2 separate regions of the Homo sapiens genome follow, and region 2 is linked to region 1. Evidence: fine-mapped expression QTL. A gene starts in region 1. The other region holds a variant in brackets. All regions are shown on one strand. Distances are from middle to middle. Region 1 holds the start of HIKESHI (heat shock protein nuclear import factor hikeshi). Region 2 overlaps HIKESHI (heat shock protein nuclear import factor hikeshi).

The links. PIP is the estimated chance that this variant, and not a neighbour inherited with it, causes the effect. A credible set is the group of variants that fine-mapping cannot tell apart.
Region 2: its variant is the best candidate, but not a certain one, in a credible set for the expression of HIKESHI in whole blood (INTERVAL, PIP 0.60).

The regions. Positions count from the first base shown.
Region 1 is chr11:86,299,690-86,305,076 of GRCh38, reverse strand. HIKESHI (heat shock protein nuclear import factor hikeshi) reads right to left here and starts at 2,837. Exons shown (of 5, transcript NM_016401.4): 1 at 2,599-2,837. The coding sequence starts at 2,628.
Region 2 is chr11:86,332,770-86,338,156 of GRCh38, reverse strand. It overlaps HIKESHI (heat shock protein nuclear import factor hikeshi), which reads right to left. Exons shown (of 5, transcript NM_016401.4): 3 at 627-778. It overlaps LOC105369421 (a long non-coding RNA gene), which reads left to right. Exons shown (of 5, transcript XR_007062826.1): 5 at 1,224-2,193. Among named protein-coding and RNA genes, the nearest start is that of HIKESHI, 33 kb to the right of the region's middle. The variant T/A (reference allele first, on the strand shown) is at 2,943.

The DNA.
Region 1 (5,387 bases):
AGCAAGCCGAGGTCCCGCCACTGCACTACAGCCTGGATGACAGAGCATGACCCTGTCTCAAAAATAAATAAAAGAATCTCAGGTAATTAAAACAGGTAAGCAATCCAGAAGTAATTAGGCAATCCTCCTTATTCACAAATCCTGTATCTGAATTCACCTACTCACTAAAACTCACTTGTAATCCCAAATCAATGCTTGCTGCATTTCTGCAGTCATTCATGGACATACTCATATGAACAGTAGTAAAAAATGTGAGTTGTAGGCCTGGCACAGTGGCTCATGCCTGTAATCCCAGCACTTTGGGAGGCCAAGGCGGGTTGATCACCTGAGGTCAGGAGTTCCAGATCAGCCTGGCCAACATGGCGAAACGTAGTATCTACTAAAAATATAAAAATTAGCTGGGCATGGGGGCACATGCCTGTAGTCTCAGCTACTCAGGAGGCTGAGGCATGAGAATTGCTTGAACCTGGAGGCGGAGGTTGCGATGAGCAGAGATCACACCATTGCACTCCAGCCTGGCTGACAGAGTAAGACTCCGTCTCAAAAAAAAAAAAAAAAAAAAAAGTGAGTTGTGCAACTCACACACTGGCAGCTGAGGTAGAACATGCCATCTTGTTTCAGTCCTCGTAATATGAAAAAGTGTCCTTTTCACAGTCTCATCTATTTAAAGCATTTTTGTGATTTTTGTTGGTGATCGTGCTGTTTAAAATGACCAAGTTCAAGTGCTGGCTAGTCTTCCTAAGTGCAAGAAGGCTATGACATGCCTTACAGAGAAAATATGTGTGTTAGGTAAGTTTTCCCTCTATAATATCCTATCTACCGATACAAATAAACTTAGGAAAAATATACTGCTATGTAATTTCAACTATCTATTAGTTATAAAGTAGTATCAACTGGCTGCCCTAAATTAAGTCTCAAGATACAAAGGCAGTGTTCCTAAAGTCAAATTCTGATTCCCTCTTCAGAAGTATTCTGACCCACTTTAAAATCCTCCAGCTTTAGTATAAAGAATAAAACAAAGGAATAACACAAACCAAATGGCCTGTATTAGTATTAAATTCAATTTCACCAGTCTTTGGCATGCATATAACCTAAAAAGCATGGGAAATTATTATTTATGAGTCTTGAAATAACCACCAGGCAAAATAAATATTTCTTAAGTGTCAACTTTGTATAGGTACTGAACAGTCTGCAAATCTGTATCATCACACTCTAATTTTTGACATTAAGAAAAGGTGTATCTCTTTAAGAAAAAAAATCTTAAGAAATAAAAACTGGGTTCATAAGTTTAGATAAGTAGATTTTTCTTATAACAGAGTCGTGTAGTTAAGTTTTGAGATGCCACTAGGTCTATTTGTCCTTCACTTTGATGTGTCCTAATACTCCATAATTAAAGGACCAAGTATCCCCAATATATAGAGGCAGGTATTACCATAACTAAATTTCCTTCCAAATTAGTTGACAACGTGAGAGATACATGGATTCCAAATAGGCTTTTTATTCTTTAAGAAACACAATTTTAATGTCATTCATTAATAACACTCACTCGTCTGAGTCACACAATCATTCCAGGTTTGTCCTTTTTCCCTATTAAGAGCAGGGCAAAATTATCTCACCAGGATTATGAATTACCACCATCACCACAGGGGTCTCCCAGTCATTCAAGAGACAAACTTTATGAGGCTAGTCATCTCCAACTTATCTTTCTGGCTTCTTAGAACTGTATATGTACAGAATACAATACATTATCAAAACTTGATGGGAAAAAAAGACAATTCAGCAAAGGGACTGCAACATTTTAAAAAGCCAGGAGAAAAAAGAAGGAAAAATACTTCTAGGGGAAAGGAATCAGGCCTGAAAATTGATGTCTGTGTGGTTTCTAAGGAAACAAACAAGATTCACCTTCCAGATTATTCCTAAAGAATTCCAGGTGCTGTTCTCATTTACTCTAACAATTTGGCAAGGTAAGTTATCTATTTTGACCCATAAGGAAACACACTACTCGCATCCTTCTCTGGTTATCTCAGATACGGCTCACACGTTAAGTTTCAGCCAACTTCCAATTAAATTAAGCTTATTTTTACTCGGGTTCTTCCAAAGGGACCCAAAAGATATACATTCCCTGAGCACCTTAATCTTTGAAAAACAGTTTGCTATAGACCAAATTCAATCCCAAATTCACCTCTACCTCAAGTTAATAAAGAAGGTATTTATACTGGCGATTGAACTTAGTTCTGTAACTGCAAAATGTCAAAGATAAAGACCATCTCACGAGTTATGAGGATTAAGTTCAAAGTGCCAAATAAGCGCCACACATAAGGCTGAGTGACCAAAGGCGTGCATTGCACTTAGCCCAGTACTTGGTACAAAATGCACACTTAATAAATGCCAACTTATACTGTGACTACTATTCGAAAGAATCTGAATAGAGCTGGGCAAAGGAGAGCACCCAGCTTCCCACGCTCCATCCTCACATACCCACCCAAAATATAATAAGTGGGCTTCCCCGCATCCCTAGCGCCTGCGCACCCTCCCTGCCGTAGGGCTTCGCCCTCGGTATCCTGACCCCTTCCTGATATCACCCGGTCCCATCCTCACCAGCCTCCCCGCCACCAAGCAGCCAAACATGGCGACGGCAGCTCCGTTCAGCCGGCAGTGACCTGAAGCCGGCGACTAGGAGTCCTGGGGCTACTGCCCTAGTCGAGACTAAGAACCTTCCAGAATTTGCGGGAGGGTGTCTGCCCCTCCACTACATAGTGACTGGGCCAGCGGCAAGAATGCCTCTGCCCCCGCGAACTCTGACCTTCTCTTCCTAAGCAGCCCACTGCTCAGGCAACAAGTACTTCCGGGGCTTACACCCGGTTTTCCCCACTAAGGAAGAAAGGCGGGCCAGCGCCAGTACAAGACTACAAGTCCCAGAACAAGTCCCAGAGGGCACCGCGCCAGTTTCCGGGAAGGTAAGCCTGGAGGCTTTGCACACTGGGATCGGTAGTCCGGGTGTTTTATAGCCACAAAATCTGTGGATCCTTCATTTCCATGTACAATCCTGGGAAGAGATGCTTCTAACGTTTCTGTGACATCTGAGAGATTAACGGTGCACTTTTACAATAATCACGTCACTAGATCTTTACAAAAACCCTATGAGGTAAGTATTATAATCCAAATTTTATAGGAGTGATCAGCCTCAAATCTTTACACAGCAGTAAATGTTGGAGGCTGAATTCAAGTCCTAATCCAAATCCGGGTTTCTTTCTGCTACACAGTGTCTCAGAAGTATTAATCTTTAACCAATTGTTTTGTACTTGTCTACAATTTATAGTAGTTCTTTCCAGCTTCACTTAGTTCTCCCATTCATTTGCTGTACAATTGTGGACGAGTTGTAGATGTCTTTGTGCTTCAGTGCCCCTCCTTTGCAAAAGACAAATAATGAGCCTATTGCCTAGGGTTGCTGTGAGGATTAAATGAGCTAATATGTATAAAACACTTAAAACAGTGCTTGGCTGTGCTTAATTAGTGGGAGTTTTATTGTAAAAATGTCTATTTTTTTTCTATGTGGATCTGCAGAAAAGTTTCATAGGAAATACAAAACAATAGCCAAAAAAAAAAAAAAAAATACTGGCATTAAGTACCGATTGCCACCAATACTTATTCTCCCTTTCACAGCTCCAATTCCTTTTCTTCTTGAATAGGATAGTAAAGGGTCTCTGTCCAATTTGAAATATCTGAGCTTGGCCACCAGCCGTAAAGCAGGTCTGTCTTCCCAGTTCTCAGTTTATATATGGGGGATCAGTGTTTGGAACAGTCCTCTGGCCTCCACTGTGGATCCCTAAACTGATCACCTATCTTATCACCGATACTCCTTTGAGATAGCTGTGCCAAAGGTGAAGAGGTAGGAAAGGATCTACCAATGTTTCCAACTTACTATCTAAAAAGTCCTAGAACCTTCAGAATAAAAAGGCCATTCATATGAAGACCACTTCATAAATTAAGGCACCCACACTACCTGGGTTCAGAGCCCATCTCTGCCATTTATTAGTTACATAATCTCAGGCAAGTTAACCTAACACTCCCATACCTCCTTTTCCCCATCTTTAAAATGAAGTAATAGTAGTATCTACCTCATAAAGTTGTTTTGAGGGTTCTTACACGTAAAGTACTCAATAGTGGCCAGAATGTAGCTTACTCAATAAATGTTAATATTTAGCATTATTGCCTTTCCTAACTAATTTTCCATGTCTTCTTCATACCCACCTTGTGCACTAGCCATACTTTTGAATTCTCTGAGCAACTCCTACTTTTAAATTTGTATGTGCTTATGCAACTTGTTTTATCTCCCTGTAATATTCACTTGGTTATTTCTTACACATCCTCTCACTTTTCTTCACTAACCTTTCTATGACCCACCTGATAGTCATTTCTTCTCCTACCCAGCAATCTTATATTTAGTGGATTGAGAACTAGCTAGCTTAGAATTTTTTTTATAAATTACAGATGATGTTTATTAATTGTCTCAATCTCTGTTATGTGAGATATGAGCTTTTTCTCCATTTTGCTGGTCAACTGTCTTAGTTATAGATTGTACAAAGAGTTAGAGGCAGTGAGTACAGTATCATATCTCTAGAGTAGCCAGTATTCCAGCTACCAAACTATATTATTTGTACATACAGTAGTTCTTTGTAACTTCTGCGGGCAGAACTAGATACAGTGTGAGGAAGTGAAAAAATGTTTCAGGGAAAAAAATCTTTCCAATAATCAGAGCTCTCTGAAATAAGAATAGATAGTCATGGAATAGAGTGAATGCTCCTATTCACATTGATATTGTAACCAATGCTGAAATCCACTTACATTGTTGAGGAGACTTACGGAAAATTGGGGAAATTGGCTGAAAACCTCAGAGGTACTCCCCCCCATCTCAAACTATATGATTCTATGGAGTAAGAACCAGTTATAGTTTAATTGTGGCCAGGGTATCAGGGATTCTGAATCCTGGTGTTAGCTCTTCATTAATTAACCTAATGATGAGATCATTTATTTTATCATTTTGGCCATTATGTTTCTTCCAATTCTAGGTTGAATTCTGACTTGAAGAGAGCAAAAAAATATTTTTTCTCTTCTCTGAAAAATTTTTCTTTACAAAACAAGGAGAACAACAAATAGACACACAAACTCTGTCTTCCCTGAACTGGGAGATATCTGTAACCCCAAGTCACAACAGATATCAATGGAAAGTAGATAAAAGAAAGGCAAATGACTTAGCAGAGGCGTGGAAGATCAAACTCAGGTACTACAGAGAAAGATAAATATCAGAGAAGCTCAGGAACTGGAGATATCAGGGGCCACAGAATGCAAGGGTAAGACAGGTAGATTGCTTAAAATCAGTGTTAAGA
Region 2 (5,387 bases), 33 kb before region 1:
CAAAGGGCACAAAGTTTCAGTTCAATGGAATGAATAAATTCTGAAAATCTATTGTACAGCATGGAGAATACAGTTACTAATAATGTATACTTGTAATTTGCTAAGAGATCAGATCTTAACTGTTCTCTACAAAAAAATGATGACTGTGTGAGGTGACTGATATGTTAAGTAGCTTGATTTTATGTCAAAATATAGGCTGGGTGTGGTGGCTCACACCTGTAATCCCAGCACTTTGGGAGGCCGAGGCAGGAAGATCACCTGAGGTCTGGAGTTCGAGACCAGCCTGGCCAACATGGCAATACCCTGTCTCTACTAAAAAAAAAATACAAAACTTAGCCGGGTGTGGTGACATGTGCCTGTAGTCCCAGCTACTCAGGAGACTGAGGCAGGAGAATCGCTTGAACCCGGGAGGCGGAAATTGCAGTCAGCCGAGATTGCGCCACTGCACTCCAGCCTGGGCAACAGAGCAAGACTCCATCTCTCAAAAACAAAATAAAACAAAACAAAATGTAAACATGTATCAAAAACATCACATTGTATACCCTAAGTTACGATTTTAACTTGTATATTATACCTTAATAAAGCAGTGGAGGGGGAGGTAAAGAATGAAATGTATGTTGCATTACCTGAGTGAATGAGTCAACTGAGGATACAGCAGCATTACCTACAGGAGTCTGCTGAGCCATACTGTCTAATAATTCCACTGAAATTCCAATCTGAGCAACAGATGGAGTTCGGACAATATTCATGGCTCCAAAAGGATGTTGGCTTCCTTCTCCTGCAAGAAATTAACATATGACACACATTTCAAATTAAACTTGTAGTCACACAATTTCCTTTGTAAATTTATAAAGAACCTCTAATTTATATACATGAAAAAGTTTTATGTCCAAGTTTGTCCCTCTTTTCAGATAAATGCAAAAGCCTACTTCGTTTTTAGCATATTAACAAAGAATAAAAGAACTAAAAGTTTCCCACCAGAAAAATAGCTGTCACATTTCTGAAATGTATTGAAACTACTGCAACTAGACACAGACAGTAACAGAGTGTGGGAAAAATAAATAATTAATAGAGAAGACTCCCTTTAGCATTCCTTATGGAGCAGGTCTGCCAGCAATGACTTAGTTTTTGTTTATCTAGGAAAGTATTTCTCCTTCATCTCTAAAGACAGTTTTGCTGAGTATATAATTCCTGGTTGATGGCTTTTTTTTTTTTCCTTTCAGAACTCTGAATATGCCAATCCACTACCGTCTAGAAGACTATGGGGTCTCTGATGAGAAATCAGCTATTAATCTTAGCAAGGATCCTTGCATGTGATGAGTTACTTCTCTTGATGCTTTCAACATTCTCTCTTTACCTTTTGACAGTTTGATTATCGTGTGTCTTGGTGTAGTTTATCCTACTTGGAGTTTCTTGAGCTTCTTAAATGTGGTTAATGTTTTTCCTCAAATTTGAGAAGTTTCTGAGCATTATTTATTTAAATATTGTTTTAGTCTGTTCAGGCTGCTATAACAAAACACCATAAACTGGGTAGCTTATAAACATCGGAAATTTATTTCTCACAGTTCTGGAGGTTGGGAAGTCCAAGATCAAGGAACCGGCAGATTTGGTATCTGGTGAAGGACCATTTTCTGGTTCAGACAGTGCCTTCTCACTGTGTTCTCACGTGGTAGTAGGGCAAGTGATCTTCTTATTACTCTAAGAGTGGTAATCCCATTCATGAGGGCTCTACTCCCATGACCCAGTCACCATCCAAGTCCCTACCTCCCAATACCTTGGGGGTTAGGATTTCAGCATATAAATTTAAAAGACCTCATCATATAAAAAGACACAAACATTCAGACCAGAGCAAATATTCTTTCCAGCCCTCCCGCCTTTCCATATGTTACTCTCATTACACTGTGTCTGCTGTGCATGTTGGTGCACTTGAGGGTGTCTCACAGGTCTCTAAGGGTCTGCTCTTCAAACTGGATATTCCAATTAATTTATCTTCGACTTCACTGATTCTTTCTTCTGTCTACTCAATTCTGCTATCTAAGCCCTTTAGTGAACCATTCAGTTACTGTACTTTTCAGCTATAAACTCTGTTTAGTTCCTTTCTATAATTTCTATATTGATATTCTCTATTTGATGATGTATCATTCTTCTGGTTTCCTTTAGCAATTTGAGCATAATAAAGACAGCTTACTTAAAGTCTTTGCCTGTGCTTCCCTGGGGGAAGTTTCTGTTCGTTTCCTCTGTATAAGAGCCTTACTTTGTTTCTTTGTATGTTTCATAATTTTTTGTAGAAAACTGGACATTTTGAATATTACAATGTGACGACGCTATAAATCAGATGTTTCCACCTTCTAGGGGTTTGTTGTTGCTGTTTATTGTAGTTGTTTCCTCATTTAATGACTTATCTGAACTAATTTTGTAAAGTCTGTTTCTTTGTTATGTGTGGCCAGTGAAGTCTCTGTTCCATTAGTTAGTAGTCTGCTAGTGATTAGAAAGAAATTTCCTTAAACCTCTGCAACCAAAAAATTCTGCCAGTCTTTGCAGATGGGCTCTGCGTGTTGGGACATGCCTTTAGTATTCAGCCAGGCAGTTTATAACTCCACCTTAGTCTTCACTTCCTGCTTGTGCGGAGACTTAAAGTGAGCCAGAAGAGAGAGCTCTGGGTCTTCGCGGGTCTTTCCTGAGCATGCACAAAGCTCTGGGAATGCACGTACCCTTCTAGATTACCAAGAATATGTCAGAGAATTTCAAAGCCCTCATTCCCCAAAGCATCTCATTCCCAACCTTTCTGGTTAGTTTTGGTTTACTCCAACTGTTTTCCTTTGCCTCGGGCAACAGTAGCTAAAACATATGTCTGTAAATACTTTTAACAAACACCCCCAAGGTAGATACTTTTCCATGAAGAGTTCCAAGTTAGGTGACATAAAGGCAGACCTCTTTTTTTT[T/A]AAACAGTCTTCTAGCAAGCCACCAGACAGATGAAAACAAGTTAATTACAATTCTTTCTGAATTAGGTCTATCCTGCTCCCTATATCAGTACCAGGAATGGAGTCTGTTATTTTCAAGGCTATCACTGAGCTGAGAAGCAGATGGGACAAGGGTAGCCAAATGCCACAAAGCTCACTGTTCTTACTGAGATTCAGTGTATTTTCTTGATTAAATGTTCCCCTGATTGCTACAAGCTTTTGGTTAGTTACCAGAGTTCCAAAAAAGTTGATTCTGGGTCAGACACAGTTGCTCATATCCTGTAATCCCAACACTTTCAGAGGCTGAGGCAGGAGGACTGCTTGAGCCCAGAAGTTTGAGACCAGCCTGGGCAACATGGGGAGACCCCATCTCTACAAAAGTTAGCCAGGCGAGGTGGTGCATGCTTGTGGTCCTAGCTACTTGGGAGGTGGAGGTGGGAGGATCGCTTAGGCCTAGGAGATCGAGACTACAGTGAGCTGTGATCTTCTGACAGTGTTGTTGTTGCTTTTATGGAAGACTGGATTTTCTGGAGCTCCTTACTCTACCGTTTGATTTCTTTTAAATCTAGAATTATGCTAAAATCCAGAAAACATATCATTATCAAAGCATATCATCAAATAGATGCAAAAATAATAAATTATAAATCATAATACAAAGAAGAGCAAGCAAAATATATGACCTAGTCTTAATATAAAAAACAAATGTAAATTAGATCAAGTTCTTTAAAACACTGTTAACAGTAAATGCAGCAGCTAATTTTTTTTAAGACTCTTTCTCAAAGCATCCCTCCTCCATGTAAATCAAGAGCCTAACACAAAACACAACTCAGAGGAAAAATTCCTACAGGGAGCTAGTTCTTTATTCTCAGTATACAAGGAAAAGCAGTCACCATCATTTGTTATTTGCATCTAATGGAAACTTTACACACACACACACACACACACACACACACACACACATATTTTACAAAGAATGTTGAGAAGAATCAGGAAATAGTGGAAAACAACTTTATTAGATTTTTTCTAAGTATTTAAGTACAGCAAATCCAGATAGTCATTCCACATTTTCCTTGTTTTTAAGATATAGCTGAAATGGGCTATGTCCTGTGAATACAACTGCCCATCAACCATCATGGATAAACATGGAACACATGCGTCTTATGGAACACATCCATTTTATAAATTTCATAAGTCAGATATCTATTAATAAAGTTATAGCTTATGGTTGTATCTTGTTCTTTTTTTGGCATCTACATTGCCATAATATAATACCTGAAAGCTTGAAGTTTTGAAACCTTTAACGGCTCATAATTTGTTGAAGGATGGCTATCCTCTGATCTACATTTTGCAAAATATTTTCATTTTTAGATTTATAACCATTATTTAGAATGATCAAGCCAATTATTTTTTTTTTCATTCCTATACCTATTTCCTTCCAATCACTTCTCTATACACCCCTGCTTTCAGCATTTGTCTATTTATAAAACCATATCCAGTCTATTTTGGAACACAAATATAAGAGATAAAAGAATAGCAGAACACATCCTTTACTACTTGTCCATGACAAAATATTATGTGAGAAATTCCTTCTTCTTAAATGACTGAGTAGAATACCATATTTCTTTTCTTTTTTTTTTTTGTTTGTTTGTTGTTGTTGTTGTTGAGACAGAGTCTCACTCTGTTGCCCAGGCTGGAGTGCGGTAGGACGATCTTGGCTCACTGCAACCTCCGCCTCCTGGGTTCAAGCAATTCTCATGCCTCAGCCTCCCGAGTAGCTGGGATTACAGGCCTGTGCAACCACACCGGCTAATTTTCAAATTTTTAGTGCAGACGGGGTTTCACCATGTTGGCCAGGCCAATCTGGAACTCTTGACCTCAAGTGATCCACCCATCTCGGCCTCCCAAAGTGCTGGGATTACAGACATGAGCCACCGCACCCGGCCTCATATTTTCTCTTGATCCTTAAAAATACATTGTTCAATCATCAAATTTTTAGTTGAGAAAACTCAGATAATGAGATCTTATTTGAAGATTCATAGTAGGTAATTTTGCTTATATGATCCACTTTACCATCGTCATCAGTGTAGAATTTACCTTTCAGTATTCATTTTCTGATTTGTCTAATAATTGTGAAACTTCTTCCTCTGTCAATTTTCTTCTCTTTGCCATTATGAACAAAATATTTAAAAGTATGAATTTACATTCTGTTCAATAAAAGCTAAAAAGAGACCATAAAGATGGTGTCTCCAGTCTCCTTTTATATTACTTAAAAGGTGGCATAATCTTTTGGGCAATGCAACATGAAAATTGTAGGTTAATGCAATGACAAACCAAGGCCCACAGGCCAAATCGGTCCCACAACCTATTTTGTATGACGTGGGAGCTAAGAATGGTTTTCAAATATTTAAAGGGTTGTTTAAGAATAAT